Homo sapiens: one gene and its partners. Each later gene encodes a partner of the first gene's protein in a complex. Links are inferred from orthologs where the notes say so. Each region holds a gene or a part of one and is shown on either strand. Other genes may lie near its edges. The genes, in order: RELA, SETD6, NFKBIA and NFKBIB. A codon is read from its position in the direction of its gene.

Region 1 (8,451 bases):
CTTGCAGGCCACACTCACCCCAACCCCCTTCCTCCTATTCAGGCCCACCCTCTCCCCTTCCTGCGTCTCCCTCGCTACTCACGATTGTCAAAGATGGGATGAGAAAGGACAGGCGGCAGGCGGAGGGGCCTGCCTGATGGGTCCCGCACTGTCACCTGGAAGCAGAGCCGCACAGCATTCAGGTCGTAGTCCCCACGCTGCTCTTCTATAGGAACTGCCAAGAAAACAGGCGATCAGGAGAGCAGGGGAAGTGGGGATATAGGTGCTATCAGTGGGGGCAGGGAGCTCTGCGCTGGGAGGGCCGCTGGTGCGTGTGTGAAACACAAGTCCTAGAGGAGGCAGAACCCAGCACTGACTCCACTGTGGCCTGAATGTCATGTCCCCTCCTGGGACTCAGTTTCCCAGTGGTAAAGTGGGAGAGTACTGAATGGGCACCAAGATTCCAGCTTTACTGTGTCTTGGCCAGTGAGGGAGATGCAGGAAAGGCGGGCTGGGGAGGGTGACAGAGGGTGCGGGTGTGGCAGGCAGGTTTGCCCTCACCTTGGAAGGGGTTGTTGTTGGTCTGGATGCGCTGACTGATAGCCTGCTCCAGGTCCCGCTTCTTCACACACTGGATTCCCAGGTTCTGGAAACTGAGCGCCCCCAGTCGTCTGTCCCACTGTCTCTCACAGAGCCCAGACCTTCCTGCCTTGCCCAGCCTGCTCCTTCCTACTCTGCCCACCCCTAGATCATCGCTCCATGCCTAACCCTCTCCAGTGGCTTCCTACTGTGCTGCAACGAACCCTGTCCCTTCACTCAGCTGACAAGCACCTCCGTGCCCCTGCCCCTGCCAGCCTCCCTGTGGGCTCCCTGCTTACAGCCACCGGGGCTCCTTTTCCACTCTCTAAACACAGGACACTCATTCCCACCTCAAGGCCTTTGCACTTGTTTGGTCGGCTTGGAATGTTCTTTTCCTACTTCTCTCCTCCTTCTCACCATTCAAGTCTTAGCTGAGGGAGGCCTTCCCTGACCTCCCAATCTAAAGTCATCACACACCAGCTCCCCTAACTCCCCCACCCCAGGTTATCCTTCTATCCTATGACCTCGTTTTATTTTCAGGACTGAAACTGTTACTCTGACAGCACCTTGTTTATTTATCTGTGTATTTATTTATTTTTAAGAGACACAGTGTCGGGCCGGGTGCGGTGGCTCAAGCCTGTAATCCCAGCACTTTGGGAGGCCAAGACAGGCAGATCACAAGGTCAGGAGATTGAGACCATCCTGGCTAACACGGTGAAACCCTGTCTCTACTAAAAAATACAAAAAATTAGCCAGGCGTGGTGGCAGGCACCTGTAGTCCCAGCTATTCGGGAAGCTGAGGCAGGAGAATGGCATGAACCCGGAAGGTGGAGGTTGCAGTGAGCTGAGATCGCGCCACTGCACTCCAGTCTGGGGACAGAGCAAGACTCTTTCTTAAAAAAAAAAAAAAAAAAAAAAAGACAAGGTATCGCCCTGCCACCCAAGTGCAGTGGTGCAATCATAGCTTGCCGCAGCAGTGACCTCCTGGGCTCAGGCGATCCTCCCACCTCAGCCTCCCTGGGACTATAGGCGCATGCCACCATACCCAGCTAATTTCTTATTTTTTGTAGACATGGGGTCTCACTATGTTGCCTTGGCTAGTCTTGAATTCCTAGGCTCAAGAGATCTTCCTGCCTTGGCCTCCCGAAGTGCTAGGATTATAAGCATGAGCCACTATGCCCGGCCTGTATATTTTTTTACAGCCTGTCTCTGTCAACTGCAATGTCAACTCCAGGGGAGAGTGCTGGTTCAATGGTTTTCTTCCTCAAACAAGAGACGTGACTCTGAGGGACTTGTCCTTCCAGCTACAGGGGTCAGGAATTCAGAAGTGATTAGGGACCCATCCGTATCCCCTGGAACTCATCTGCTAGAGTAAACGTACAAATAGATAATTTCAAGACAAAGGCAGTTTACTTGCAGAGCTGAGTCAGGGCAAGGAGTGAGGAATTCTGCCCTGGGTCCAGAAAGGAGTAACACTGTAGCGGCTACTTCATAGCCCGCCTCCTGTCCCCTCATGCTGGGCCTCCTAGCCTGCAGGGACCTCACCTGTGGATGCAGCGGTCCGGGCAGAGCTCAGCCTCATAGAAGCCATCCCGGCAGTCCTTTCCTACAAGCTCGTGGGGGTGAGGCCGGTGAGGAGGGTCCTTGGTGACCAGGGAGATGCGCACTGTCCCTGGTCCTGTGTAGCCATTGATCTGTCCAAAGTACAGAGGCCCAGACATCCAAACCTGACTCCCAAACACAGAGGGCTGGGGTTCCACAGTCCCTTCCCCGCACACCCTGGCGCAGTGCTGACCTTGATGGTGGGGTGGGTCTTGGTGGTATCTGTGCTCCTCTCGCCTGGGATGCTGCCCGCGGAGCGCCCCTCGCACTTGTAGCGGAAGCGCATGCCCCGCTGCTTGGGCTGCTCAATGATCTCCACATAGGGGCCAGAGGCCTGGGCTGGCTCTGCCAGGGGACACCGCAGCCCCATTAGGCGGCTGCCCCCACTGCCCTACCCCAGGGAGCACCTCCCCGACCGCCGCGGGGGCCACTTACCTGCCGGGAAGATGAGGGGGAACAGTTCTGAAAGGGGAGGGAGATCAGGGTCAGCACACACCCAATGCCCATTCTCACAAGGAGGAATCTGCTCTCCACGGAGAGGAGAAGCCAGGCTCCCTCCCAGGGGAACTGAGTCAGGACCTGCTCCCTAGAACCTGCGGTGAAACTAAGGGGTGGAGGAAAGGAACCAGAAACACCTGCTTCTTGAGGGAAAACGGGGTAAGGAATCCTTCTTCTCCAGAGGGAAGCTGAATCAGGGCCTGTTGTACTTTCTTAAGGAAAATTGAGGGAGGGCACGCCCCACCTCCCTCCAGAGAGGAAACTGAATCAGATGCGTTCTCCCCTAATAGGGAAACGAAGCCAGAGCTGCCCCCATGGACGGTGTGGAGGGAAACTGAGTCAAGGTTCCCTCTGCTCCCCCACCCAGGGAGGATGCTGAGTCAAGGGCCACCCCCTCCACCCAGAGGGGAAACTGAGTCAGACCCCTCCCCGCCTGCCCCGCCCCGCGCCACCATCCGGCAGGCCGACCGCTCCCTGCGCAGCGCCCGTCGGCGCAGGAAGGGGCGGAAAGCGGCGCGGGGGCTCCCGCCACAGCCGCGGCGGCCCCGGCGATGCCACCCCGCGGGGTCAGAGGGCGACCTCACCGTCCATGGCCGGGGTCCCGGGGGCGGGGCCGGGGTCGCAGCTGGGCCCGCGGCGTGCACTACAGACGAGCCATTCGCCAGAGGCGGAAATGCGCCGCGCGGCCCGCCGTCGCGTCACTGCCCGGAATCCGGCCGCGCCTGCGCGCTGCCCCGCCGCCGCCCGGCGCAGGGGCCGGGAGCAAGTGCACGCCGCGCGGAGGACGAAGAGGCTGCACGCACAGCCGCTGCCGGGGGTCGGGGCCAAGTGCGCGCCTCGCCGAGGACGAAGAGGCTGGCGTGCCCGGTGGCTCGGCTAGCTCCCGGGTCCCGGCCCCGCCTGGAGGGTGGGTCCGCCGATTACTCACTTTGTTTTTAGGGGATTTCAGGGCCCCCTCCCGCCGATCGGCGGAGTTTGGTGATGTCACTCTGGGCCGGGTCTGGAGCAAAGCCAGGGCTACTGGGCTGCGGCCGCCCGCCCCGCGCAGGGAAAAGCCCGACCGGGCCTTCTGCTCCGCAGAGGCCGGGTGGTTGAACTCCGCGCGGGTTTCCTAACCGCTAAAGGTGCCTTTCGGTGGTGGCTGTCTCAGAAGCACGTTAAAATGTCCTACCCACCCCAATCTAGATGCGGCTGTGGGGGAATGGGAGCGGCCGGACCTCCCAGCCTGACAGTGCATCAAGAGCTTTGCGGAGCCTACAGCCCGGATGGGACGACTGAGGCCCTCCCGCTGGCGAGCTGGCCGAGGGCTCGTCCCTCTCCAGCTAAAGCGCCAGCTTACGATACAGCCAAACTGCCGGCTCTCATCGGCTGTGGGAGCAGGAGGCCCCCAGGGGTAAATCCCGGAGCCTCGTCTCTGAAGCCTGGCGCTTGTGTCTCAGAAGGTGCGGGACCCACAGGGACACTTGAATCAGCAGGCTCACGACCCCCCACCCCCCTGCCCCCGCCTGTGTTTGCCCTGGACCTCCAGCTAGGGCTGACCACTAATTCTGTCATGTGACCCCACAGTGCAGGTAGCTCCCCCAAGACCAAGCCCAAGGCGCGTCCGTGTGGAGGCTGGGGCTGACGCACCCCCACCCCAGGCCTCATCCCCAAAGGAGGATGCTCCACTGCAGGGGGCGGAGTCTTCTCCAGATGGAGAAAGACTTTTTTATTTTCTCTGAATTCGTCTTAAATTAGGAAATCATGTGGGAATTGGAAAAGATTGGAAATTCTGACTTGTTTCCCAGGCTCTGAAGAAACAGGAAGAGAAAAGTGAAAATAGAGTTAGCACCCCGCCCACTCATTTCAGTTTCTCCAGTGGCTGGCCCTGATTAGAAAAGTGTTTACTTTTGGCAGGGGGCGGGGGAGGCCGACTTCAGGTGACAGAATGGATTAATTAAAATCTTTGGTTAATGATATACAATTATCATTGAACCTTGCATGGATCCTCTTCTTAAAATTCATGTATATTTATAACTTTTAAATTAATACGATAAACACCCATGTACCCATTGCAAAACTCAAGGGGCCACCACCATCCAGAATTCTGTATTGTATTGTATTGTATTGTATTGTATTGTATTGTATTGTATTGTATTTATTTATTTATTTATTTTTTGAGACACGGTCTGTCTCTGTCGCCCAGGCTGGAGTGCAGTGGCACAATCTCTGCTCACTGCAGCCTCTACCTCCTGGGCTCAAGCAATCCTCCCACTTCAGCCTCTTGCATAGCTGGGACTACGGGAGCACACCACCATGCCCGGCTAAGTTTTTGTATTTTTTGTAAAGAAGTGGTTTAACCTTGTTGTCCAGGCTAGTCTTGAACTCCTGAGCTCAACTTTCCTCCCCGCTTGGCCTCACAAAGTGCTGGGATTACAGGCGTGAGCCACCACGCTGGGCCAGAATTCTGTATTTTTTAAATTAATTAATTAATTAATTTATTGTAAATAGAGATGGGTCTCACTGTGTTGCCCAGGCTGGTCTCAAACTCCTGGGCTCAAGCGATCCTCCCACCTCAGCCTCCCAAAGTGGGATTACAGGCATGAGCCACCACACCTGGCCCAGAATTCTGTATTTTAAAGAAAAAAAAAGTTATATCTGCATGCCTACACAATATATCTTTTGGTTTTCCTTAGTTTTGAACTTTTTTTTTTTTTTTTTTGAGACAAAGTCTCACTCTGTCGCGCAGGCTGGAATGCAGTGGCATTCTGCTTACTGCAACCTCTGCCTCCTAGGTTCAAGCGATTCTCCTGCCTCAGCCTCCTGAGTAGCTGGGATTAAAGGGGCCAACCACCACGCCCAGCTAATTTTTGTATTTTTTTAGTAGAGACGGGGTTTCACCATGTTGGCCAGGCTGGTCTCGAACTCCTGACCTCAGGTGATTCGCCAGCCTCTGCCTCCCAAAGTGCTGAGATTACAGGTGTGAGCCACCGCACCCAGCCAGTTTTGAACTTTTATGAAGAGGGCATCATATGATTTGTTGTCCTTTGTTACTTGCTTTTTTCACTCAACCTGTTACTATGATTCATGTTTCACAGTTAATTCACTTTTTCACTGCTGTATACTATTTTGTTGTGTAAATATACCACAGTTTGTTTATTCATCCTGAAGATAGGCATTTTTATTTTTATTTTTTTGAGATGGAGTTCCTCTCTTGTGGCCCAGGCTGGAGTGCAATAGCACCATCTCGGCTCACTGCAACCTCTGCCTCCCAGGTTCAAGTGATTCTCCTGCCTTAGCCTCCTGAGTAGCTAGGATTACAGGTATGCATCACCATGCCCGGCTAATTTTGTATTTTTTTTTTCTTTTGAGACAGAGTTTCGCTCTTGTTGTGTGCAATGGCACAATCTCGGCTCACAGCAACCTCTGCCTCCCAGGTTCAAGTGATTCTCCTGCCTCAGCCACCTGAGTAGCTGGGATTACAGGTGCCTGCCACCATGCCTGGCTAACTTTTTGTATTTTTAGTAGAGACGGGGTTTCACCATGTTGGCCAGGCTGGTCTCAAACTCCTGACCTTAGGTGATCCACCTGCCTCAGCCTCTGAAAATGTTGGGATTACAGGCATGAACCACTGCATCTGACTAATTTTGTACTTTTAGTAGAGACAGGGTTTCACCATGTTGGCCAGGGTGGTCTCTAACTCCTGACCTCAGGTGATCTGCCCGTCTCGGCCTCCTAAAGTGCTATTACAGGCGTGAGCTACCGTGCCCAGCCATGGGCATTTGGACTTCTAATTTTTTGCTGCCATAAGCTTTAGAGCACTGAGTAATATATAAAAACAGCAATCATGTAGTTTTTAAAACTTAGTCTGGGGTTAAAGAAGTATGTAAACAACTATGTTTTCTTAAAGATTTATAGGAGCATTGTGACTGGACCAAGGACAAAGAAGTTCCCAACCTCCTCAGACCCTCGCTGCTGCCCAGATGTCTGCCATGGGGTACTTCTTGACCACACCCTCCTTCTCTTCCCTGCCCTTAACATAGAAAGAGCCTAAGATTGTACTGACTTAAAATGGTACTTTAGAACGCTAGTACACCGTCCTCTCAGTCTTGCTGGCTTTCAGAATAAATCAGTAAACCTACTTTTTCTCCCACCAACGCCCCTATCAGTTGGGATCCTCTTACCTCGGCCTCCCAGGTAGCTGGGACTATAAGCACTCACCACCACACACAGCTAATTAAAAAGAAAACAATTTTTTGAGGCAGGGTCTCACTCTGTCGCCATGCTGGAATGCTGTGGCATGACTCGTTGCTCACTGCAGCCTCAAACTCCTGGGCTCAAGCAATCCTCCCACCTTAGCCTCCCAAGTAGCTAGGACTAACAGCGTGCACCACCACACTCAGCTAATTTCTTTTTTTTAATTTTTAGTAGACACAAGATCTTGCTATGTTGCCAAGGCTGGTCTCGAACCTCTGAGCTCAGGCGATCCTTCTGTCTCAGCCTCCCAAAGTGTTAGGATTACAGGCATGAACTACCAAACCCGGCTGAGTTTTTTAAAATCTTAATGAATGCATGGATTTAAATATATTAGCTGTGTTTTAATCAAGTATAGTTATTGAAATTCAAATTATTCGTCTTTGGTTAGGGAGAACTTCTTCAAGTTGGTTGTTCTTCAGTCCTTTTGACACAATTCCAATATATGAGTCTTGGTGGCTCATACCTGTAATCCCAGCACTTTGGAAGGCTGAATGGGGAAGACTGATTGAGGCCAGGAGTTTAAGACCAGCCTGGTCAACATGGCAAGATCCCTATGTCTATTAAAAAAATAATTTTAAAAAAGCAATTACAGTAGCCTGTGATAGCTTCTTTGCTGTTTGGTATGAAAAGATATTTCTTTTCTTTTTCCTTTTTTTTTTTTGAGATGGAGTTTCGCTCTTACTGCCCAGGCTGGAGTGCAATGGTGCAATCTCGGCTCACTGCAACCTCTGCCTCCCGGGTGCAAGCAATTCTCCTGCCTCAGCCTCCCAAGTAGCTGGGATTATGGGAGTGTGCCACCACGCCCAGCTAATTTTTGTATTTTTAGTAGAGATGGGGTTTCCATATTGGTCAGGTTGGTCTCGAACTCCTGACCTCAGGTGATCCACCTGCCTTGGCCTCCCACAGTGCTGGGATTACAGGCATGAGCCACAGCGCCTGGCCTGAAAAGATATTTCTAGACTCATCTAGTAAATTTTCTGCCCCAGATCTGGAATCAGACAGCTTTCCAAGGAGTCCTGATTTCTCTTAGTAGGAAATGATATTTAAAGACTACAGCTTGAGTACTTCGGATACTTATTGCTACTGAGTCAGTCATTGTAGATGTTTTCGGTGAATAGTTAGTACTTTTTTTTTTTTTTTTTTTTTTTGAGACAGAGTTTCACTCTTGTTGCCCAGGCTGGAGTGCAATGGCATGATCTTGGCTCACTGCAACCTCCGCCTCCCGGGTTCAAGTGATTCTCCTGCCTCAGCCTCCCGAGTTGCTGGGATTACAGGCATGCGCTACCACGCCCGGCTAATTTTGTATTGTTAGTAAAGACAGGGTTTCTCCATGTTGGTCAGGCTGGTCTCCAACTCCTGACCTCAAGTGACCTGCCCGCCTCGGCCTCCCAAAGTGTTGGAATTACAGGCGTGAGCCACCATGCCCAGCCAGTAATTTTTTAAAAAATGGGAGTCTTGCTCTGTCATCCAGGCTGGATTGCAGTGGTGGTGTGATCATAGCCCATTGCAGGCTCGAACTCCTAGGCTCAAGTGATTCTCCCTCCTCAGGTCCCCCAG
Region 2 (6,481 bases), on another chromosome or scaffold:
GTGTTTGGCAGGCATCTTGTTAAATGTTCATGTATAAAGATTAATGAATAGGACTCTCCTGTTCTGCAAAAAGCTCACAGTATAACTCCTGTTGCAGGTTGCAGCTTTTCTGCTTGAGCTACATTTCATTTGGTCCTCTATATTTATCTTATAAAATAGAGACCCCAGTTAGGTGCTAACTAGTTGTACAGTCCTGTCCAGTTTTGCATACATATATTTTAGGGGGACACTACTCTTTAACTTTGCTATTGATTCTTGAGAGATGAATTGATGTTGCATATATGCTGCATGCCTATATGTGGGATGGATTTAAGACAGCTTAAATTCAAGATATAACAAAATTGAATACCATCACGTCCAAGAGCTCGGCAATAAAAGGACGGCAGCCTTTAGAGAAACGTGTCACTGTGACAGACTCACAAACACGAATAATGTCAAGCAGAGGCAAACAACCAAACCCAATTAAGATAATACTTATTCCAGTGTAGTTTAGACTAATCAAAATGTGGGCTGGGTACCCTTAGGGTGTCAAGACCTTTTTAGGAGGGCTGTGAGGTCAAAACTTTTTTTTTTTTTTTTTTTTGCGATAGAGTCTTGCTCTCACACCCAGGCTAGAAGGCAGTGGCGCAATATCGGCTCACCATAACTTCCGCCTCAGGGGTTCAAGCGATTCTCCTGCCTCAGCCTCCCGAGGAGCTGGGATTACAGGCACACGCCACCATGCCCAGCTAATTTTTATGTATTTTTAGTAGAGATGGGGTTTCACCATGTTGGCCACGCTGGTCTTGAACCCCTGACCTCAAGTGATCCACTTGCCTCAGCCTCCCAAAGTGCTGGGATTACAGGCGTGAGCCACCGTGCCCGGCCCAAAACTGTTTTCATCATAAAACAACATTTACATTTTTGGGTCTATTCTGTCATGAGTGTACAGTTGAATTTCTCAGAGGTTACATGAAATATACTGTAACAAGTTGAACACAGAAGCAGAAATGAGAATCCAGCTGTCTTTTATTAAGCAAGACTTAGAGATCTGCAAAATGTAGAAAGACTTAGTGATGAGTGTCACCAGAAAATAGTTCATGTTTCTTACATTAGCACATAGTGGGTCTGTTTTTAAAAATGAATATTTTTAAAATCTAATTTCTAATGTGGAAAATTCTGAAATAAAACGCACAGAAATGAGAACTCTTTGGGGTCCCAAGAACCACTGCTTTAAACCAAAGATTAATTTGAAAGCCTCTGTCAGAAACCCAAACCCTAGCCAGTTAGAACTGTCTTCCCATGTTGGCCTTTCAGACTAAGTCCTAAGTCAAGGTTTCTTAATTTCTAGGTCGCTATCTCTTTTTGAATGCAATTGCAAATCAGCTCCGGTACCCAAATAGCCACACTCACTACTTCAGTTGCACCATGCTGTACCTTTTTGCAGAGGCCAATACGGAAGCCATCCAAGAACAGATCACAAGGTAAGCGAGCAGCTTATTTTTTAAATGCTTCAAAAGGATCTCCTCCCTTTCATCTTTTTTTTTTCCTCTTTATGCTTTCAGTGTTCAGTGAAAATCCGTTTGGTTGGTTTTTTTTTTGTTTTTTTGAGACGGAGTGTTGCTCTGTCACTCAGTCTGCAGTACAGTGGCGCCATCTTGGCTCACTGCAACCTCCGCCTCCCAGGTTCAAGCGATTCTCGTGCCTTAGCCTCTCAAGTAGCTGGGATTACAGGCGCCTGCCACCACGCCCAGCTAATTTTTGTATTTTAGTAGAGACGGGGTTTCACCATGTTGGCCAGGCTGATCTTGAACTCCTGACCTCAAGTGATCCACCCGCCTCAGCCTCCCAAAGTGCTGGGATTACAGGCGTGAGCCACTGCACCCGGCCTTCAGTGAAAATCTTTTACATGTCCAATAATGTGTTAAATGTGGGATACAATTGTGAGCAAAATGGATGGTTCCTGCCCTCTTAATACTCATTCTGATGGACATTTATCACAAGATAGGGAATTATAAATCGCAATCATGGCTTAAATGAAAAGTAGTTTACCACAAGGCACATTTTGATTAAAGGTCAGGAGTTTCTCTGAGGTGGTGGTGATAACCAGTCCTAAATCATGCAGGCCTATGAAGTCTATGTTAAGGAACTTGGACTTTTCCTCATTACCTCTGGGTTGAAAGCAGTAGCAATAACAGGATCATACTTGCATTTTCCTAACAATAGTTAGGAATCTGTTGCCAGATTGCCTAGACTACATATAGCATTAGAGAGATTGTGATACACACACACACACACTTTAAAAATTGGGCCAGACTCTTAAAACTTGCTCATTTGCCTAATTAGTCACCTATGGTGCTAAATATGGTATTCCTTTGATTTGTGTACTAAAATTTAATATCTTATTGGATGCTTAGATGATGATGATCCATTTTGTTTATATAAAGCTGCAGTAAGTCTCCTTGGACTTGTAATCTTTGTTATGCTTCATGTACAGTTGGTACGTGAAAGGATATAAAGTTAAGCCAATGCTTACTGGCATTCGGAAAAATTTTACCAATTTACATGTGAACTAGCAATGTTAGCTTTTTTTTTTTTTTTTTTTTTTTTTTTTTTGAGACAGTCTCGCTTTGTCGCCTCCTGAGTAGCTGGGATTACAGGCACCTGCCACCACGTCCGGCTAATTTTTTGTATTTTTAGTAGAGACGGGGTTTCACCATCTTGGCCAGGCTGGTCTTGAACTCCCGACCTCGTGATCCACCCGTCTTGGCCTCCCAGAGTGCTGGGATTACAGGCGTGAGTCACTGTGCCCAGCCTGCAGTGTTAGAATACTTAATTCTTATTTTCTGTTTCCTTTTTATTGAGAGTGAGCTTATTTATTTATTTAATTTATCTGTTTATTTGAGACAGGGTCTCACTCTGTCTCCCAGGCTGGAGTGCAGTGGCACCATCTCGGCTCACCACAACCTCCACCTACTGGGTTCAAGCGATTCTCCTGCCTCAGCGTCCGACTGCTGGGATTACAGGCATGTGGCCACCATGTCTGACTAATTTTTATATTTGTAGCAGAGATGGGGTTTCACCATGTTGGCCAGGCTGGTCTCGAACTCCTGACCTCAGGTGATCCACCTGCCTCGGCCTCCCAAAGTGCTGGATTACAGGCATGAGCCACTGTGCCCGGCCTGGGAGCTCATTCTGGAAATTACTACTTTTTGTACTAACTTTGTGTGCCATGTACTCTGGGCTTTATGTGGCTTCCTCTCCCCCATCACCCCTTATTCTGAACAGCTGTGAGGTAGATACCATTATCTGCACTTTATATAAATACTTAGTCTTCTACGGCTAAGAGCAGGGTTCAAACCCAGGTATTCCAACCTGTGCTATTTGGAGTATATTAATCCACCTGTCTTTACTAAAGGTGAAAACTTTTGCATGTGGTTCAATAGTCAGGGAGAAGTTAGAAAAAAAGTAATGGAAGAATAATCATGAATTTGTATGCTTCTATACATTAACTAGCTCTTTCTCCCTTTTTCCAGAGTTCTCTTGGAACGGTTGATTGTAAATAGGCCACATCCTTGGGGTCTTCTTATTACCTTCATTGAGCTGATTAAAAACCCAGCGTTTAAGTTCTGGAACCATGAATTTGTACACTGTGCCCCAGAAATCGAAAAGTGAGTTCAAAGTAATTTTTAATTGTCTAGGAATGAGACTGGAGACTGAAAACCATCTGTCTCTAGGTTGGGTCAGCTGAATGAGATGCAAGGTATTGTTAGGCCTACTCTTTAATCAGAGATTTGTAACTGTCTTCATCCTTCAGGTTATTCCAGTCGGTCGCACAGTGCTGCATGGGACAGAAGCAGGCCCAGCAAGTAATGGAAGGGACAGGTGCCAGTTAGACGAAACTGCATCTCTGTTGTACGTGTCAGTCTAGAGGTCTCACTGCACCGAGTTCATAAACTGACTGAAGAATCCTTTCAGCTCTTCCTGACTTTCCCAGCCCTTTGGTTTGTGGGTATCTGCCCCAACTACTGTTGGGATCAGCCTCCTGTCTTATGTGGGCACGTTCCAAAGTTTAAATGCATTTTTTTGACTCTTGGCCAAAATTTAGAAGATGCTGTGAATATCATTTTGAACTTGTGTAAATACATGAAAGAGAAAACCTTTGTCTGGAACTTCTTGGCTTTGTGCAAGCTGTGTCCAAGGCAAGTACATAAACTGGTACCTTGTAATGAAGAGGCAGCTGATGCCATGCACTTGTCTGAGGGCATAGCTCCATGTCTTCTGACATTCCTGGTGTCCCAAAGAATAGCAAAAAGCCAGTTTGAATATTATGTAACTTATTTTTTTAATGTGGACAGGGGACCTTGAAAATCACTAAGTTATTAAAAATGTGGATGTGCTAGAATTGGATATGTCCAGGAACATGGGAAGGGCTCACTATTGGAATCCCATGAGTTTCCATTTTGTCTCTACCCAAACGTATTCCAAAGCTGACTGCATTTGTACCATCTTATTTCTTTTGGGGATTATACACCTCAGCCGCCTGAGATGGGGGTCAGCTCTTTATATAAAGGGAAACCAGACCAGGCCTAAAGCCCACCCCTACCCTCACCCCCCCAATCCTCTCCTGAAACTTAAAAACAGTGGGAATATAGGAAAGGGAACCAAATCTCATTAATTAATTGTTCTCCCCCATTACCCCACTGAATGAATGGCCATACAGGCTAAGCTGAATAATGACAAAGTTGAAAGGACCAATACAGCCCCTTTTATAAGGATTTTGAATGTTTTGCAAATGTATTGGTCCCTGTGTTGTATTTTGTAGCCTTTTCCTGGGCTTCAGCTCCCCTACTTCTTGTATGTGTATGCATACTGTAGCTAACCATTAAAGTCATGACACACACATGAGTCCACTGTGCCTTTCTCAGTAGCAGCAGCCAGTGCTGGTGGTGAGGAGGAAAAGTGGACAATCCAGCCCTGCAGACCTTGGGGCCATGGGGAACCACCAACTAACTTCTTGCTGAATGATTGATTGATTGATTGATAGGTCATTCCTACTACTAAGCTGGCATGTTTAAGGAAATTGTATTTTTCTTCCTATTTATTTCAACACTGGACAAATGCTGGAGCAGGTTTATCTGGTTAAGCTGAGTTTAAAATACCCAGTTTTAATATCCTTTTCCCCCAGGTATTTTTTTTTTTTTTTTAAAGAAAATGAGTAGATACGTATTTAAAAACTTAACCCACTTAAAATTTGCCTTACCTTTCATGACTGTCAAGTTTTATGGCCAGAGAGGACAAAACAGTTCAAAATTAAATAATTGAAGTCCTCCTTGAGTGATGTCTTAGGGTTTATTCCCTGAGAGGTGGTTTGTGCCATCTAGACTGAACTTTGGGTAACTATCGAGTACCAGTTACACAGCTTATTAAATCCAGAGTCTTTTCAATAAAGGTTAAGTGACTTCCTCAAACTAGACTTAGATTTAAACCAGGGGTCTACCTCCAAAGTCTATTATTAAATGCTGAAACACAACAAGACTTACTTATTACTACCGTATGTCCACTGGCTTTGGTTAAAACTGAGAACAAAACATCTGTAACATGCTTTAAGTAACAATTAGCAGTGATTCCCAAGTCTGCTGTTCTCAATCCTAAAACACATCACCCTTACCTGAGTTAATCCTAGCACACCAACTTTGCTACTTTTCCTCTTGGTGTTTAGTAAGCAAAAGAAAGATCCAAATTTTCCTCTTTTTCAAACATCAATGAGTATTAGCTTAGAATAAAGTTCTTATTGCTGTTCCTTCAGGGAACAGGGAAACTGCTAACTTGTCAGCTCCAACAACTGATGTAAGATCATCTTCTGACCATAGCGAACCTGTAAGGCTTGCTGTTCCCTCCAGCTGAGTTTCGCATAGACTTCCTTATTACTGAGTAAACCTTGGTCAGTTTTTAAGTCTGTGGCATAGGTCTGCAAAGTCAGTAGAACACTGTTTTGAAGCAGCTGTCTCCACGATGCTTTGAGCTTGGGAATATTTGTGATCGTCAGGCTGCCCTCTTCCCTTTTATCATCTCCCCCTCCATCCTGGTCTTTAAGCTCTCTGAACTCCTCAGCAGGCATGCACAGTACCTAGAAGCAACCACAGAGCTCTTTAATTAGATGTACTGCTTTTGTACTTCTGAAATGACTCAGGAGACTAAACTCATCTTAGCATTTATTAAAAATCCCACATTTCCTCTCTCATCTTCTAGCTATTTTGCTTTAAATACTTAGATTATCAGCATTAAATGGCCATTTTCAGCCGTTTACCTTTAGTGTGGTGGTCAGCTCCTCTTCAGTCAGCACCTCCTCCCTCCCTATCACAAAGGCTCCCTCTTCCCCTACCATCTCCAGTTTGCATAGGAAATCCCAGCGCTCGTACACTAGGTGCCTTTCAGCTTCAGTTTTTGTTCCTGTAGATGAAACAGCAATGTGAAAGTCTCAGTACACCCAAGGGTTCAT
Region 3 (8,046 bases), on another chromosome or scaffold:
GCTTCCACCCCAAGCCTGAGATTGGTAATTTCCTATAACCTTGCAACAGCCTCCCTCCCACACACTGGGCCCAGGGTGCCTGCAAAGCTTTGCTGGAGGCTGGGTGTCAGGTGTGAGAAGCTGCTGGGAGTTACCTCCTCCCTCACACTGCTCCACCTCCACCTCTGCCGGAGGATGGAACTTCAGAACCGGAGGCCCACGGCAGCCTGAAGAAAATGATCAGGATAACTCATTTGTAAAAATCTGTTTAATAAATATACATCATAAAAGTACCAAAATAATTACCAACAATACATTATGTACACCATTTACAGGAGGGTAACACAAACCTTGACAGGTAGTAACTTTTCACCCCACATCACTGAACGCTTAACACTCCTGGCTGTTACATGTCACAGGATACCACTGGGGTCAGTCACTCGAAGCACAATAAATATAAAATGTGGTCCTTCCATGAAATTTTTGATAACCTTCTCCAAAAACCCCACAAAGGTGAGGTTTAAAAGAAGTTTTCTCAGAATTTCAATGATCTTTCTCGTCCCCTACAAAAAGTTCACAAAAGCAACAAAATGAGGGCTGATCCTACCACAATAAGACGTTTTGGGCCAGGCAGTGTGCAGTGTGGATATAAGTACACCCTTTAAATTTTTTCTTCTTTTTTCTTTTTTTAGAAAAATAAAACTTTTTTTTTGTACAAATATACAAGTCCATGTTCTTTCAGCCCCTTTGCGCTCATAACGTCAGACGCTGGCCTCCAAACACACAGTCATCATAGGGCAGCTGAAAACAAGGGGAAAAAAGACACGTTAAGCTTCCGGAGCGGAGCTCTGCCAAGCTACCGGGATGGGGAGGCCACTACTGGAAATAACTCTTGGACTCCATTCTCCATAGCCCAAATATAATGAACTTTACAGGCTGAGAGAGTTTGCCTTTAATGCTTCTCTTTAAAAAAAGAGGGGGGGCAGGTACATTCTTGGGATACTGGTTATGCACAGAAATTTGAGAGACTCATTATGTAGATACCCCTCTGATAAGGAGCAGCTCTAGGGGCCTGGGAGGGTGAAGGGAATGGCACCTCATTAGTTAGAGCGCCGAAGGAGTTCACAGACTCACCTCGTCCTCTGTGAACTCCGTGAACTCTGACTCTGTGTCATAGCTCTCCTCATCCTCACTCTCTGGCAGCATCTGAAGGTTTTCTAGTGTCAGCTGGCCCAGCTGCTGCTGTATCCGGGTGCTTGGGCGGCCCCAGGTGAGCTGGTAGGGAGAATAGCCCTGGTAGGTAACTCTGTTGACATCAGCCCCACACTTCAACAGGAGTGACACCAGGTCAGGATTTTGCAGGTCCACTGCGAGGTGAAGGGCAGTCCGGCCATTACAGGGCTCCTGAAACCAAAAGGAATTTGAGATGCTTATGGCTGCATTTGGAATTTCTGCTCACAACATAAGCACGAGGAGCCTGACTCAGTGCGTCGGGGGCAGGAAGCACCAACCTGAGCATTGACATCAGCACCCAAGGACACCAAAAGCTCCACGATGCCCAGGTAGCCATGGATAGAGGCTAAGTGTAGACACGTGTGGCCTGGAAGAACAAAAGGAAAAAAGTATAACCACCTGTTTCAACCCTCACTCCTTTCACCTATTCTTTTATGGAACAAGTAGTCTTATCTTCTGAATTTTAAGAACCCACAGTCTGGGTTCTGAAAGAACTTTATAAAGGCATCCAATAGGCACTTTGCACACATATTTTCTCAACCTTCCAAATGTTAGGAGTTTAAGCTCTTGCCTGGACTCCTTAAGTTGGCCCACCTGCCCCTTCTCCACGTCACCTGCCCTCCGAGGGGGTGGGGCAGGGCAGGGAGGCAGACATACCATTGTAGTTGGTAGCCTTCAGGATGGAGTGGAGGTGCGGGGTGGTGCAGGACTGAGTCAGGACTCCCACGCTGGCCAGGCAGCCCTGCTCACAGGCAAGGTGTAGGGGGGTATTTCCTCGAAAGTCTCGGAGCTCAGGATCACAGCCAGCTCCCAGAAGTGCCTCAGCAATTTCTGGCTGGTTGGTGATCACAGCCAAGTGGAGTGGAGTCTACGAATGCAAGAGAGACCAGAGAAAGTAAGCCATGGACCAAACCCACACCCCGAGTTCCCCTCAACCCGTGTCTCCTGGTTGGGTGCTGCTCCTCCTAGACAGGGGGGTGGGGAGGGCTGGCAAATAGCAGAGGCTCCAGGTGGGTCATAAAGACCTCACCAAATCAGTGGAATTTCCTTCACTCTCTAGGATGTGGGCTGATGTGAAGTAAAAGGTGAGGGTAAATAGTGCTCAGTGGCCCTGAATTCAGAAAGGATCTGGGGTGACTCTGCTACATCAGCTACGTCCCAGGGTCAGAGAGAACCCGGGCCAGGCAAGCGGCGCACCTGCTGCAGGTTGTTCTGGAAGTTGAGGAAGGCCAGGTCTCCCTTCACCTGGCGGATCACTTCCATGGTCAGTGCCTTTTCTTCATGGATGATGGCCAAGTGCAGGAACCTGTGGGGAAGAGAGGGAAAAACCCCAGGGGTGGTGAGTGCACCGCGTGGGGCCCAGGGAGGCGCGGGCTGCGGGGGATTGCGCAAGGCCGGGGTTTCTGGAGGCCGAGGCCGCGGTGTTTTCCGCGAGGTTATTATGAGCTGAGTGTTCCTGGCAGGCGCCCAGGGACTTTCCGCCCCCCTCCCCCCGCGGCCCCGGCGGGCGCCGGCCAGACCGCCCCGCCCTCCCGCCAGCTCGGAACGCCCTGTACTTCCCCTCCCGGCTGCTCGGCGCCCGCCAGCGGCCAGAAACTCCCGCCCCGCCTTATGCAACCGGGGACTTCGCGTCCCCGCTGCCGCCCCGCCCCCGGCCTAGAGGACGGGTCTGGGGGGAGGGGGCGTGTGGCGACGCTGCCATCCACCAGGGCCCAGCCGCCGCCCCTCCGAGTTGGGCCGGTGCCCCGCGCGGCCCTGCAGCCCTGCAGCGTTCGGGGCGGTGCAGGAGCCCCGGGGTGCCGCGGCGCCCGCCCGGCTGCATCGCTGGTCCCCCGGCTCGGGCTCCAGGCCCGGCGCCTCCCACCCCCAGGCCGCGCGCGTCCCGCCCTCCCGACGACCCCCAGCCCCGGGCCTCCGCCACTTACGAGTCCCCGTCCTCGGTGAGCTGCTGCTTCCAGGGCTCCGAGCCGCGCGGCACCTCCTGCGGCTCGAGGCGGATCTCCTGCAGCTCCTTGACCATCTGCTCGTACTCCTCGTCTTTCATGGAGTCCAGGCCGCTGTCGTGGCGGTCGTCCAGTAGCCGCTCCTTCTTCAGCCCGTCGCGGGGGCCCTCCATGGCCCACTCCTGGGGGCGCTCGGCCGCCTGGAACATGGCGCGGACGAGCTGCGGGCGCTGCTGCGGGTGCGCTGGGCCGCGGGCTGCGCGCTGCTTCCTCGCTGGGGCGCTGGCGGGCGGGACGGCGGCACGGACTGCTGTGGGCTCTGCAGCGCCGCCGCGGCGCCCTATAAACGCTGGCTGGGGATTTCTCTGGGGCGGGGTCAGGCTCGGGGAATTTCCAAGCCAGTCAGACCAGAAAAAGAGAACTGGCTTCGTCCTCTGCTAGGGGGAAAAAGAAGCCTAAACCCTGAGCTGGGGTTCATCGGAGAAACTCCCTGCGATGAGCCACTAGGGTCACGGACAGGGAACTTTTTGATGAGCGCCGAGTGGCTGGAAAGTCCTTCCGACCAGGCCCCCTCCCCCCGGTACTTCCCTGCAGCCTGCACCCTGTAATCCTGTCCCTCTGCAAGTGAGCCTTCTTTCCCTGGGGTTTCCCACGATCGATTTGAATTGGGGTCGTCGGCTGCTGAGATCCCAAGGACGCCGACCTGATGGGCGGTCCCTCTTTGGGGTTTGCCAACCTGCCGGTCCTTTCCGTTTTTTGATCTTTTGAAAACGCAAGAGTGGAAATGATGGCTGGGCGTAGGGATTTGCTTTCCCCAGACTTCTAAGGGGAAGGACGCACTGTGGTTAGGGGGCTGCAGGCCGCGCCGGTGTTTCTGCCTATACCAGGCTCTTTGCAGCAAAGGAACTTTTAGCTTCGCCCCCACCCCCCCACGCACCCCCGCCAGGTAGAAGTTGTGAAAGCTTTGGAGGAGTGAAAAGCCTAAATCCTTGGAGAACTCTCAAATCACTTCCTAGGGATGAACAGCCCTGTTGACTGGGGGAGGGGCAAACGCTCCCTGTATGGGGAAACTGCTGAATAGGACCATGATTTTTTTTGTTTCCCAAGTAAAGCAAGGTGTTAATGTTTGTAGTGGTGGTTGTGGATACCTTGCAATAGCAGAGTAGCTATTGTGTTCATAAGTAGCTATTCGTTTATGCTATCTGACCTACATTGTGCTCCCGCAGAAAAAGGATCGTGAGCCTACTTCTGGGCACCCAAATTCGAGGAGAACTTAGAGAAGGAGGCTGAAGAATGAGTTTAGTTAGTGCCTTAACCGCGATTGGACCTTAAGGACCACTAAGAAAGTAGTTGCCAGGCATCCTGCGGGAGGCTCAAGGTAGTCCCATCCTGCCCGCCCCTCCTTGCTCTCTTGTCCTGGGGGACAGTAGCAGTTGGACCCATTCACGCCACCTGGGTAGAAAGGGGTTTCGGCTCACTATGCTCTGGTTTCACCTGCAGAAATATAATTTATGCTCTCCACTCCACCTCCACCTCCAAGCCTGCAAGCCATGGACTGAATTCATCTACTTGGTAGAATTGGTACAGGCAAAATAAAGCAAACTTCGGTCAGAGCTCTTCAGAATTAGTCCCAGGAGGCCTCTGTAGTTCTGCAGAGATTTCTGGTGATTATTGCAATCATCTTTACCTTGACTGGCCTTGTACTAACCAATCCTTCCCCTCTCTTCGTATCTCCACCCCTCCCCTAATATTAGAATGAAAGAAATCTGACTCGATAGAGAGAGACCAAGTATGAAGGGAAAAAAATTAAAATCAGATAGACCCTCCAGGGTAATAATGATCACATGTTACAATGAAAACTTCCCAGGGATAGACACCATTGTCTCTGCAGGTTTATGATATGCAAATCTACAATGATTGAGGCAAGGTGAAACAGTGACTGCAATGGGACATCTCAATTCCAGGTTCTATCTTTACTTGACTGCACATTAGTTGGAGAGGTCAGTTAACTTTTTTGTGGTATACTTAACTTTTATAATAAGATTAGATTGAATGTTACTTAAGGTCTTTTCTAGCTTAAAAGTCATATTGCTTGTCTACAAATGCATGCCTAACTCTCCTTTGTAAGGGTGACCATGGCTCTTGGAAATGTCAGGGTATAAATTTTTGAAAGAATTCCAGCGCCTTATGTACCACATTGTTCTCAGAACTAATCTTGTAAGATAGATATTGTTCCTACTTCCCTAAAAAGAAACTGAAATGCATAGAAATTTACCCAGGAACCCCTTGGCAGTATATTAATCATTTGGCCAAAGCAGTCTTAGTATTAACACTTTTGAAAACACGCTGTGAAAATCAGACTGACTACACTATAATTTGGAATGTACTCAAAAGTATTTTCTACTCCAACTGTTAGGGAAAATAAAGGGTGGGTGTCCCCTGACCCCCATCTGGGGATAGTCACTTCTTTTAAACAAGTACAGAAACATCAAACTCTAAATGTCCCAATTATAGAGGATACATCAGAAGAAGATATTTGGCTTCAGGTATAAAAATGGTTATAAAAAATAAAAATATCTGAGGAATAAGGTTTTTTTGCACCACCTTCTATGGTTTTATATTTCTGGTAGCCTTCAGGATCTTGGTGTTTATTCCTGATTGTTTTGTGTGACACCTAGTGGTAAGAGTAAGGCACAGGCGTTCCTTGATTTGTCATAGTGCCTTTTGCAAAAATTGGGAGGTGCTGAGCCTTGATGACTTGTCCCTACAGTGGAGATTTCCAAGGAGGTACCTATTGTTTTCCTGCGACTCTGGGAAACAGTTTTGAATAATGTGATCCAACAGGTTTTCTCCCCATCATCTATAGCGCTATATGGTTTAAGTCAACAAACATTACAACGTGGGTGAAAAAGAATATACACTTGGAAATTAGAACCATGAGCAGACTGGGCAGAAGACAACAAGAGGGTCTGGTTTTGATTTAGAAAGACCTTTATGGGCCAGGAGTTGTGGCTCACTGCTGTAATTTCAGCACTTTGGGTTGCTGAGGCAGGAGGATTGCTTGCCACCCAGGAGTTGGAGACCAGCCTGGGCAACAAGGCTAAACTCTTGTCTCTACAAAAAATATAATTAGCAGAGTGTGGTGGCAGGTGCCTGTAGTCCCAGCTACTCCAGAGGCAGAAGTGGGAGAATTGCTTGAGCCTGGGAGGTGGAGTTTGTAGTGAGCCATGATGGCACAACTGCACTCCAGCTTGAGCAACAGACTGAGACCCTGTCTCAAAAAGAAAAAAAAGAAAAAGAAAGACCTTTATGGACCCTTCAGCACTCAGATTTTTCTCCTCCTCATTGTCAAACATTCTAGCTAACATAACCGTTAAAAAAAATGTTAAAACTGTAGGCTGTGCGCAGTGGCTCACGCCTATAATCTCAGCACTTTGGGAGGCTGAGGCAGGTGGATCATGAGGTCAGGAGTTCGAGACCAGCCTGGCCAACATGATGAAACCCCGTCTCTACTAAAGATACAAAAAATTAGTCGGGTGTGGTGGTGCAGATGCTGCTTAGGAGGCTGAGGCAGGAGAATCACTTGAACCGAGGAGGCAGAGGTTGCAGTGAGCCGAGATCGCGCCATTGCACGCCAGCCTGGGCAACAGGGTGAGACTCTGTCTCAAAAAACAAAACAAAACAAAACAAAATACTTTAGATAACTGATTTTTAATGTTATTTGGCCTTTTTAATGCATAAGGCAAAATAATAAGTTACACCTCAAAGCTGCTTTGTATTTTGGCCCAGGACGCAGCCGTAGGAAATGACAGGACGGCCAGTGATGCTCCAGGAGCACCCCCATGGGAAAAGGAGCATCGCCAGGGCCTGGTTTGGCTGCAGGCACTTCAGGCACTCCTCCTGCATGGAACAAGCACAGTATGGACAAAACCTATTGCCTGAAGTGCCATGGAGAGAGTCTACAAGTTCAGCCAGGTGGTCCAAAATCCTCAGGGCAGGGTGGCCTGTGTCAACTGGCCTGGCCAATTAAAACTAAATTGTTTTGGCTACAGCAAATTCAACTCTGGAATCAGGCTACCTATTGCTCAGTGCAGCTAGGCTGGAAGAAAGACGAGCCATGACAGAGTTCCTGAAGAGCAAGGCAGGTGCACTCCCAACTGGCAGCCCCACTGTGAAATTCTAAATATTCTGCTTTCAGTCTCAGGTTGTCTTCTTTCTTGCTATCGTGGTAGCAACTGTCTGCATCCTCTTCAGAACAGGGAGCCCCCAAGCTATGGATCTTTTCCCATAGAAAAACAAGGCTGGGGGCGGTGGCTCCGACCTATAATCCCAGCACTTTGGGAGGCTGAGGCGAGCTGATCACCTGAGGTCAGGAGTTCAAGACCAGCCCGGCCAACATGGTGAAACCCCATCTCTACTCAAAATACAAAAATTAGCCAGGCGTGATGGCACATGCCTGTAATCCCAGCTACTCGGGAGGCTGAGGCAGGAGAATCACTTGACCCTGGGAGGTGAAGGTTGCAGTGAGCTGAGATCGTGCCATTGCACTCCTGCCTGGGCAGCAGAGAGAGACTCTGTCTCAATTAAAAAAAAAAAAAAGGAAAAACAGCTGTCAGAACCTTCATTTGTAGTGAAGTGAAAATAAGACCGTCAAATCCTTAATGTGTTTCCTTTGCTACAAATTCTGCAATTTAATGGAGATCAAAGCTTTAAAGGATCTCAAACTCAAAATACTTACGCATAGGGAGCAGGCAGATTTCACAGATGAGTGAAACAGACCATTTGAGTCTGAAAGGAGTGGGATCTCCAACAGCTTAGGTCAGGGTGTGTACTTCCCTCATACTTAGCTCAGACAACTTTTGGCATGTAGCACCTTCAGTTCAGTAGTGAC
Region 4 (7,076 bases), on another chromosome or scaffold:
GAGCAAAACCATCTTAAAAAAAAAAAAAAAAAATGGCTGGGCATGGTGGTTCGTGCCTGTAATCCCAGCACTTTGGGAGGCTGAGGCGGGAGGATTACCTGAGGTCAGGAGTTCGAGACCAGCCTGGCCAACATGGTGAAACCCTGTCTCTACTAAAAATACAAAAAATCAGCCAGGCATGGTGTTGCATGCCTGTAATCCCAGCTACTCGGGAGGCTGAAGCAGGAGAATCACTTGAACTCGGGAGGTGGAGGTTACAGTGAGCCGAGATCGTGCCACTGTACCCCAGCCTGGGTGACAGAGCGAGACTCCATCTTAAAAATAAAAATAAAGCGCCATCACGAGGTGCTCATCCCAGGCACCTTTGCCAGTGCCAAGCTACTGCTGTTGGCTGTGGTCGCGTTAGCCAGCACCACTCTTCCGGGGTTATGGCAATCAGCATGGTCACCATCGCGGTCCACGACGATCAGAACGACCGCTGCTGGATGCCACTATGAGAACCGACATGGCCCACAATCACAGTGACCGAGGTGGCCTGCCTTTGAAGGTGGGTGCTGACTACCCCGTTTCTGACCCCACCAGGAAAAGGAGGTGGAGCAGCTGGAGCACTTGAGAGACGAACTGAAGAAGGTGACAGAGACGCTGGGGGAGCAGCTCAGGAGGGAGGGCTGACCCCTACCTCAGTCCCTCCTTCCTCCTGACACACCCTGTGGCTTAGGACTGTTGACCCCGAAGCCTCCACCTCACCTAGCACCCCACGCCACCCCTACCCAAACAGGGGAGGAGGCGGACGTGCCTTGGAACCACACCCAAGGAGGTGAGTCTGAGCTGGGCCGGGGGCTGGGCTCAGCCCTGACACAGGAAGCACCCCCACACCTATGCACTCCCACTCCAACCCTTCTGAGTGAATAAAGCACAAAGAAACGCACCCTGCCTCCGTGAGCAGCACTTGATGTGACAGGGATGGGCCCCAGAAGGACCCGGAGGACTGGGAAGACAAGATCAGTCTGGTCTCTGGTTGTCAGAACTAGGGTTTTGTTTATTAAACTGGAAATTATATTAACAATGAAACAAATCACACGGGGCGGGGGTCGTCAGGAAGAGGTTTTGAGGCTGGGGTGGGAGGCAGCCGGGTTTGGCTGCGGCTGCTGTGAACCACAATGTCGTCGTATTCATCCTGGGGGCAAAGGGGACCAGGCAGAGGGGCTCAGGCGGCTGTCACTTTGCCCACCACCCATGTCCTCATAGAGCACCCTAAGAATTAGGTCTCGCCTCAAAGCCCAAGTTCCCCTGCTCCTGGCTCAACCTCCCAGTTTCCTAGCTCTCAGAACTCCATTTTCTTTTCTTTCTTTTTTTTTTTTTTTTTTTTAAGATGGAGTCTCGCTCTGTTGCCCAGGCTGGAATGCAGTGGCGTGATCTAGGTTCACTGCAACCTCCACCTCCCAGGTTCAAGCAATTCTCCTACCTCAGCCTCCCAAGTAGCTGGGATTATAGGCATGCGCCACCACGCCCAGCTAATTTTTGTATTTTTAGTAGAGACAGGGTCTTGCCATGTTGGCCAGGCTGGTCTCGAACTCCTGACCTCGTGATCTGCCTGCCTCGGCCTCCCAAAGTGCTGGGATTACAGGCGTGAGCCACCGCACCTGGCCAGAACTCCATTTTCAAGGTCATTTCTACAGACCAATTTCTAGCCAGCCGCCACTCCAGAGTTTCGGCAACTGAGCTGGCCCTCCTCCACCCCTTCCCTCTGCCTTTACCCAAATTCCTCCGCACCCATCATCCAGCACCGCGCCTTGCCCAAGGACGGATCTGTATTGCTGGGTTCTCTGACTATATCTCTCCCCACCGCTGGCTCGGGTCCTGCCCCAGCACTGCCGGTGTTCAAATCACTGCCACCCAAGGTTTTCTTTTCGCAGTGTGAGTTCTCCAATTCTTGCTGCCTAAAATCACCCCCAGCGCTACCACCCACCCCCGCTGTGTTCACCAATCACTGCGACCAACGCCTTTTCTCCACCCCTGCCTGAGTTCTACCTTTGCCACTGCCTTAGTTTTTCAGCCACTTCTGCCCAAGCTCTTCCCACCACCCCTGTCCAGGTCTCTCCTGACTAGTGCCCCGTGTCACTGGCGCTGCTGCCTGAGTTCTCTAACAGCAGCCCAAGGTCGGTGCCTAATTATCTTCTTGGGCTTCTTGCCTGCCGGTCTATCCTGACCCCCCAGCTGGGCTGCCCTGTCTCTCCTCCTGACTCACGCCCTCGTCTCCGCTGTCGCTGTCGCTACTGCTGCTGCAGGGGCCGGATTTCTCGTCCTCGCCCTCGGGCTCAGGGGCTCCGTGTGCACGGAGGAGGCGGGCGAGGATGGGGTTGGGCCGGAGCATGGCACTGCCGAGTGGGGTGCGGCCACCGTACATGCGGGCAGCAGGGTTCGCGCCTGCCCTCAGGAGAAGCTCCAGCACATCGGCTGCCTGGGCCTCCACTGCCAAATGAAGGGGGCTCCGGCCGCACGTGGGCTCCTGTGGGGGTGCAACAGAAAGGTCAGAGGGCCCGAAGAGGGGACAAGCCCCCTCCCGCCGACGGCATCTTCCCCGAGGTTGGGGCTCACCGGTTTGTCAAGGTCAGCTCCAGCATCTCGGAGCAGCCGGACCATCTCCACATCTTTGTGGATAACGGCCACGTGGAGTGGGGTGTGGCCTGGGGACAGAGTGATTGGCGTCAGATGATGAGGTGAGGGCCCCCCCCACCCCACCGTGCTTTGATCCTGGGGGAGGGTCATGTGGCGTGAGGGTGATTAGGTTTGGGGGCTGGTTCCTGAATTCTTGGGTATGGCAAAGAGGTACCTGGGTACCAAATGCCTATCTCAGATGGCCTGAGCTTGCTGGCAAGTGCTAGTGCCTGAGTTGTTTGAAGCCTGGGGCCCGCGGGTAAACAGCCTGGGGTCTGTGGACAGGGAGCCTGGATTTTGGGGCCAGGAGGAGACCCAAGTCTCTGCTCTTATCACTCAAAGGACCTGAGCTGGCACGCTATTTCACACCTGTAATCCCAGCACTTTGGGAGGCCAAAGCAAGAGGATCACTTGAGCTCAGGAGTTCAAGAAGCTGCCTGGGCAACATGGCAAGACGTCTCTACTAAAAATAAAAAATAAAGGCCAGGCACAGTGGCTCACGCCTGTAATCCCAGCACTTTGGGAGGCTGAGGCGGGTGGATCACGAGGTCAGGAGATCGAGACCATCCTGGCTAACATGGTGAAACCCCATCTCTACTAAAAATACAAAAAATTAGCTGGGCATGGTGGCGGGCGCCTGTAGTCCCAGCTACTCGGGAGGCTGAGGCAGGAGAATGGTGTGAACCCAGGAGGCGGAGCTTGCAGTGAGCTGAGATGGCGCCACTGCACTCCAGCCTGGGCAACAGAGTGAGACTCCATGTCAAAAAAAAAAAAAAAAAAAAACCTTAAATTAAGGTTCCTGCCCAGGCACGGTGGCTCACACCTGTAATCCCAGCACTTTGGGAGGCCATGGCGGGCAGATCACCTAAGGCCAGGCCAGGAGTTCAAGACCAGCCTGGTCAACATGGTAAAACCCCGTCTCTACTAAAAATACAAAAATAAGCTGGGCATGGTAGCATGTGCCTGTAATCCCTGTAATCCCAGCTACTCGGGAGGCTGAGGCAGGAGAATCACCTGAACCTGGGAGGTGGAGGTTGCAGTGAGCCAAGATCACGCCACTGAACTCCAACCTGGCAACAGAGTGAGACTGTCTCAAAAAAAAAAAAAAAAAAAAAAAAGGTACCAAGTAGCTGAAAAGCCTGTGACCTGGGGGCGAGAGGCAGGCCCTGAACACTGGGTCCTGAATGACGTCAGTCCATCTGAGGAGGGGTCTGGTCTCAGGTGGCTGGGCTTATAGGCAGGGGAGCAGAAACTTGGATGTCAGGGCTGTGGGCAGATGAGCCCTTCTTCCCATGAGGCTGAGGAGGGCTGTCTCTGAACCCTGCTGCCCATTGCTGGGAGCCTGGGGTGCCAGAGTTTCACAGAGGGCCTGAGCTCTGCATTCCCCGGTCCTGGGTAGGGTAGGGGTCTGCAATACACTCTGCAGGTGGGGAGCCCGGGGGCCCGACAACTGGATCCTGGCAGCTCTGGGTCTGTGGGTGACAGGTCTGCATCCCAAGTGACCTGGGGCCTCCAGGTGGGGGTCCTGGGTCCTACATATCCAATTCTCAATCATCTGGGCCCTGAGTGGAGGTCCCTGGTCCCGATGTGTGGGCTCCTGAAGCCTAGGCATGATTTCCCAAGGAGCTCAGTCTCAAATCAGGGAAGCTGAGCCCAGGGCCAGGTGCTCTCGCCTAGCCCAGGAGCTGAGTCCTTCCCTGGTGACGACCCTCACCCTCGTAGTTTTCAGCCTCCAGCTGCAGCTTCCAGTCCTCCTCACTCTCCTCTTCTTCCTTCTCCAAGTCGGAATCGGGGTACAAGGCGACAGGGGTATGGTTGGTGTCGGGAGTACGGTCAGGGCCCTGAGCGAGGTAGGTGTCGGGGGCTTCCCTGGGGCGCCGGGGGCGGGGCTGAAGCAGGGCACGGGCACAGGCGTGTGCCCCCACACGGCAGGCCAGGTGCAGCGCCGTGTGGCCCCTACGCTCCGCCACACACAGCCCGGCGCCTGCTGCGTACAGCTTCTCCACCGTGGATGTCTCCCCCAGGATGGCTGCCAGGTGCAGGGCTGTCTGCAGAAGCAGAGGACAGGCGGTAGGGAGTCACACTGGGAACCCTGGACCCCAAGCCCTACACCATCCCTCGTGGCTCACCTGGCCTAGGTCATTCTGCAGGTCCATGTACTCAGTGCCGGCCGAGAAGCCTAGAAGAAAATCCAGGAAGGGTTCATGCTGATGAATCACAGCCAAGTGCAGTGCCCTGGGGACAAAGACCGGGGTGAGAGGGCAAAGTTCAAGTCCTCTTGCATTCCTTCATTGAACAAACATGGGGCGCCTACTGTATGCTAGGCCTTGTGACCACAGTTCTGGAACCCCCTGTCAGCTATCTGGGAGGTCAGAGGTCAGAGTTTCATCAGCAAATTCGTGGAATCAATGTTTATTCAGTGGGATTTCCACTTCTGCCCAAAATGAAGTAACATGGACCAGAATTCACTCCCACGTGAAACAAACAAACAAACAAACAAGAGTCAGACGAAATACGGTATATGAAGCAACAGTGTTGAAGACACTGGACATCGTGCAATGAATCACAGTGACCCCTGAAAGACAGGAAACACGAGGTGGGCCCCACACTTGACTGCCACAGCTTATTGTCTTGAGAGAGTTTCAAAGCCACGGTGCAGAGAGGGGAATCCAAGCAGAGCGCATCAGGTTGTCTGAGGTCAGGAGATGGATATGGAGGAAGAGTCTGTGGAGGCCAGCGTGGCTAGAGTCACAGGACAGAGTACAAAACAGAGTTGCCAAAGGAGAGATTGCTGGGGAACTGCAGGAGGTTCTCTTGTGTATTCCGGAGAATACGGATCAGCCATGCCTGTGAGTCTGTGGGGATGGGAAAACCATCCAAAAGGATTTCAGAAAAGTGCTCGTTACTCACACAGGGCCAGGAATAGTGAGTGTTCCCACCAGCCAGGCTGGAAAAACATCATCACAGGCTATCGGGTGGGATACTCAGGAAGGTCTTGCCTCAATAGTGGGGAATAATTAACTGTAGATGGGGCACTGCTCAACACCCACCTAACAAATCATAAAAGCAAAACTGGAAAGACTCAAACTACTTCCGAGTAATTTAACTCCATCCCAGAATAATATTCAAGAATATTTATTTATTTATTTATTTATTTATTTATTTTAATTTTTATTTTTTGAGAGAGAGTCTTGCCCTGTCGCCCAGGCTGGAGCGCAGTGACACGATCGTGGCTCACTGCAACCTCCACCTCCTGGGTTCAAGCGATTCTTCTGCCTCAGCCTCCCGAGTAGCCGGAACCACAGGTGCGTGCCACCACACCTGGCTAATTTTTGCAGTTTTTAGTACAGACAGGGTTTCACCATGTTGGCCAGGCTGATCTTGAACTCCTGACCTCGTGATCCACCCGCCTTGGCCTCCCAAAGTGCTGGGATTACAGGTGTGAGCCACGGCGCCCGGCCTCAAGAATATTTATAGGAATACAGAATTCTCCAGACTAACAAGGCAAAATTCACAATGTCTGGCACCTAACCAAAGATTATCAGGCATGTAAAGAAGCAGGAAAACATGATCCATAATAGGAACCATCAGTGAATTGAAACTGACCCAGAAATGACAGAGATGTTAGAATTTGCAAACAAGAATATTAAAACAGTTCATTATGCTGGGCACGGTGGCCCACACCTGTAATCCTGGCACTTTGGGAGGCCAAGGCGGGCAGATCACTTGAGGTCAGGAGTTTGAGACCAACCTGGCCAACACGATGAGACCCTGTCTCTACAAAAAATACAAAAAAAATTTAGCCAGGCATGGTGGCATGCGCCTGTAATCCCACCTACACAGGAGGCTGAGGCAGGACAATCATTTGAACCTGAGAAATGGAGGTTGCAGTGAGCTGAGATCGTGCCACTGCACTCCAGCCTGGGCAACAGAGTGAGACTCCGTCTCAAATAATAATAATAAAATAAAATAAATTTCTTTTACTCTATGTGAAATGGCATAATATCACTTTAAGGTAGCCCATGATAACCTAAAGTTGTAAACTATCAACCCTACAGCAGGAGTCAGCAAACTTTTTCTGTAAGGAGCCAGATAACTATTTTAGTCTTTGTAGGTCATATGGTTTCTCTTTTTGGTTTTGTTTTTCTTTTTCTTTTTTTGTTTGTTTGTTTTGTTTTTTTGAGATGGAGTCTCGTTCTGCTGCCCAGGCTGGAGTGCAGTGGCGTGATCTCAGCTCACTGCAACCTCCGCCTCCCGGGTTCAAGCGATTCTCCTGCCTCTCAAGTAGCTGGGATTACAGGCGCTCGCCACCACTGCCAGCTAACTTTTTGTATTTTTAGTAGAGACAAGGTTTCACCATGTTAGCCAGGATGGTCTCGATCTCCTGACCTTGTGATCTGTCCGCCTTGGCTCCCAAA

What was found.
Region 2: the proteins of RELA (region 1) and SETD6 are in contact, whole or in part, in a crystal structure (PDB 3RC0), measured with the Homo sapiens proteins. Residues at the interface, in NP_068810.3 of Homo sapiens: Glu307, Thr308, Phe309, Lys310, Ser311, Ile312; in NP_001153777.1 of Homo sapiens: Ser120, Trp122, Val220, Met221, Ala222, Tyr223, Ser224, Phe225, Gln226, Glu227, Pro228, Pro238, Asn239, Ser240, Pro241, Asn259, Leu260, Tyr262, Asn283, Thr284, Tyr285, Met288, Met296, Tyr297.
Region 3: the proteins of RELA (region 1) and NFKBIA are in contact, whole or in part, in a crystal structure (PDB 1NFI), measured with the Homo sapiens proteins. Residues at the interface, in NP_068810.3 of Homo sapiens: Arg50 (codon at 2,392), His181, Lys221, Ser238, Phe239, Ser240, Gln241, Ala242, Asp243, Arg246, Arg253, Asp294, Arg295, Ile298, Lys301, Arg302, Arg304, Thr305, Tyr306, Thr308, Phe309, Ile312; in NP_065390.1 of Homo sapiens: Thr71 (codon at 3,154), Glu72 (codon at 3,151), Asp73 (codon at 3,148), Asp75 (codon at 3,142), Phe77 (codon at 2,517), Leu80 (codon at 2,508), Ala81 (codon at 2,505), Ile83 (codon at 2,499), His84 (codon at 2,496), Glu85 (codon at 2,493), Glu86 (codon at 2,490), Leu89 (codon at 2,481), Leu110 (codon at 2,418), Gln112 (codon at 2,412), Leu117 (codon at 2,068), Ile120 (codon at 2,059), Thr121 (codon at 2,056), Asn122 (codon at 2,053), Phe142 (codon at 1,993), Arg143 (codon at 1,990), Leu150 (codon at 1,969), Gln154 (codon at 1,957), Arg218 (codon at 1,368), Asp226 (codon at 1,344), Leu227 (codon at 1,341), Gln249 (codon at 1,275), Tyr251 (codon at 1,269), Gln255 (codon at 1,257), Leu256 (codon at 1,254), Trp258 (codon at 1,248).
Region 4: the proteins of RELA (region 1) and NFKBIB are in contact, whole or in part, in a crystal structure (PDB 1K3Z), measured with the Mus musculus proteins. The link is inferred for Homo sapiens from one-to-one orthologs. Residues at the interface, in NP_033071.1 of Mus musculus: Lys218, Lys221, Ser240, Gln241, Ala242, Asp243, Val244, Arg246, Gln247, Asp294, Arg295, Arg297, Ile298, Lys301, Arg302, Arg304, Thr305, Tyr306, Thr308, Phe309, Ile312, Met313, Ser316, Pro317, Phe318, Gly320; in NP_001293151.1 of Mus musculus: Tyr53, Thr55, Glu56, Asp57, Asp59, Ala61, Leu64, Ala65, Ile67, His68, Gln69, His70, Pro72, Phe73, Phe76, Asn91, Leu93, Gln95, Leu100, Ile103, Leu104, Gly105, Arg125, Val137, Arg275, Leu283, Arg284, Asp306, Lys307, Leu308.

Annotation. Positions count from the first base shown.
Region 1 is NC_000011.10:65,659,584-65,668,034, forward strand, and holds the start of RELA (transcription factor p65), read right to left. Parts: upstream 3,334-8,451; 5' UTR 3,250-3,333; coding exon 3,243-3,249; intron 2,995-3,242; exon of another isoform or gene 2,796-2,994; intron 2,765-2,795; exon of another isoform or gene 2,623-2,764; coding exon 2,596-2,622; intron 2,506-2,595; coding exon 2,354-2,505; intron 2,286-2,353; coding exon of another isoform or gene 2,253-2,285; coding exon 2,104-2,252; intron 633-2,103; coding exon 541-632; intron 215-540; coding exon 83-214; intron 1-82. UniProt on the Homo sapiens protein: NF-kappa-B is a pleiotropic transcription factor present in almost all cell types and is the endpoint of a series of signal transduction events that are initiated by a vast array of stimuli related to many biological processes such as inflammation, immunity, differentiation, cell growth, tumorigenesis and apoptosis.
Region 2 is NC_000016.10:58,518,352-58,524,832, reverse strand, and holds the end of SETD6 (N-lysine methyltransferase SETD6), read right to left. Parts: intron 6,433-6,481; coding exon 6,290-6,432; intron 6,110-6,289; coding exon 5,804-6,109; 3' UTR 3,876-5,803; coding exon of another isoform or gene 3,797-3,875; 3' UTR 3,651-3,796; coding exon of another isoform or gene 3,516-3,650; 3' UTR 1,464-3,515; coding exon of another isoform or gene 1,331-1,463; 3' UTR 991-1,330; downstream 1-990. Other genes in the region: CNOT1 (CCR4-NOT transcription complex subunit 1), read left to right, coding at 1,331-1,463, 3,516-3,650, 3,797-3,875. UniProt on the Homo sapiens protein: Protein-lysine N-methyltransferase. Monomethylates 'Lys-310' of the RELA subunit of NF-kappa-B complex, leading to down-regulation of NF-kappa-B transcription factor activity. Monomethylates 'Lys-8' of H2AZ (H2AZK8me1).
Region 3 is NC_000014.9:35,401,281-35,409,326, forward strand, and holds NFKBIA (NF-kappa-B inhibitor alpha), read right to left. Parts: upstream 3,470-8,046; 5' UTR 3,365-3,469; coding exon 3,138-3,364; intron 2,519-3,137; coding exon 2,410-2,518; intron 2,081-2,409; coding exon 1,870-2,080; intron 1,580-1,869; coding exon 1,491-1,579; intron 1,384-1,490; coding exon 1,114-1,383; intron 781-1,113; coding exon 733-780; 3' UTR 233-732; downstream 1-232. UniProt on the Homo sapiens protein: Inhibits the activity of dimeric NF-kappa-B/REL complexes by trapping REL (RELA/p65 and NFKB1/p50) dimers in the cytoplasm by masking their nuclear localization signals.
Region 4 is NC_000019.10:38,902,832-38,909,907, reverse strand, and holds the end of NFKBIB (NF-kappa-B inhibitor beta), read right to left. Parts: intron 4,894-7,076; coding exon 4,788-4,893; intron 4,707-4,787; coding exon 4,373-4,706; intron 2,688-4,372; coding exon 2,599-2,687; intron 2,510-2,598; coding exon 2,249-2,509; coding exon of another isoform or gene 2,201-2,248; exon of another isoform or gene 1,178-2,200; coding exon 1,076-1,177; 3' UTR 1,019-1,075; downstream 1-1,018. UniProt on the Homo sapiens protein: Inhibits NF-kappa-B by complexing with and trapping it in the cytoplasm.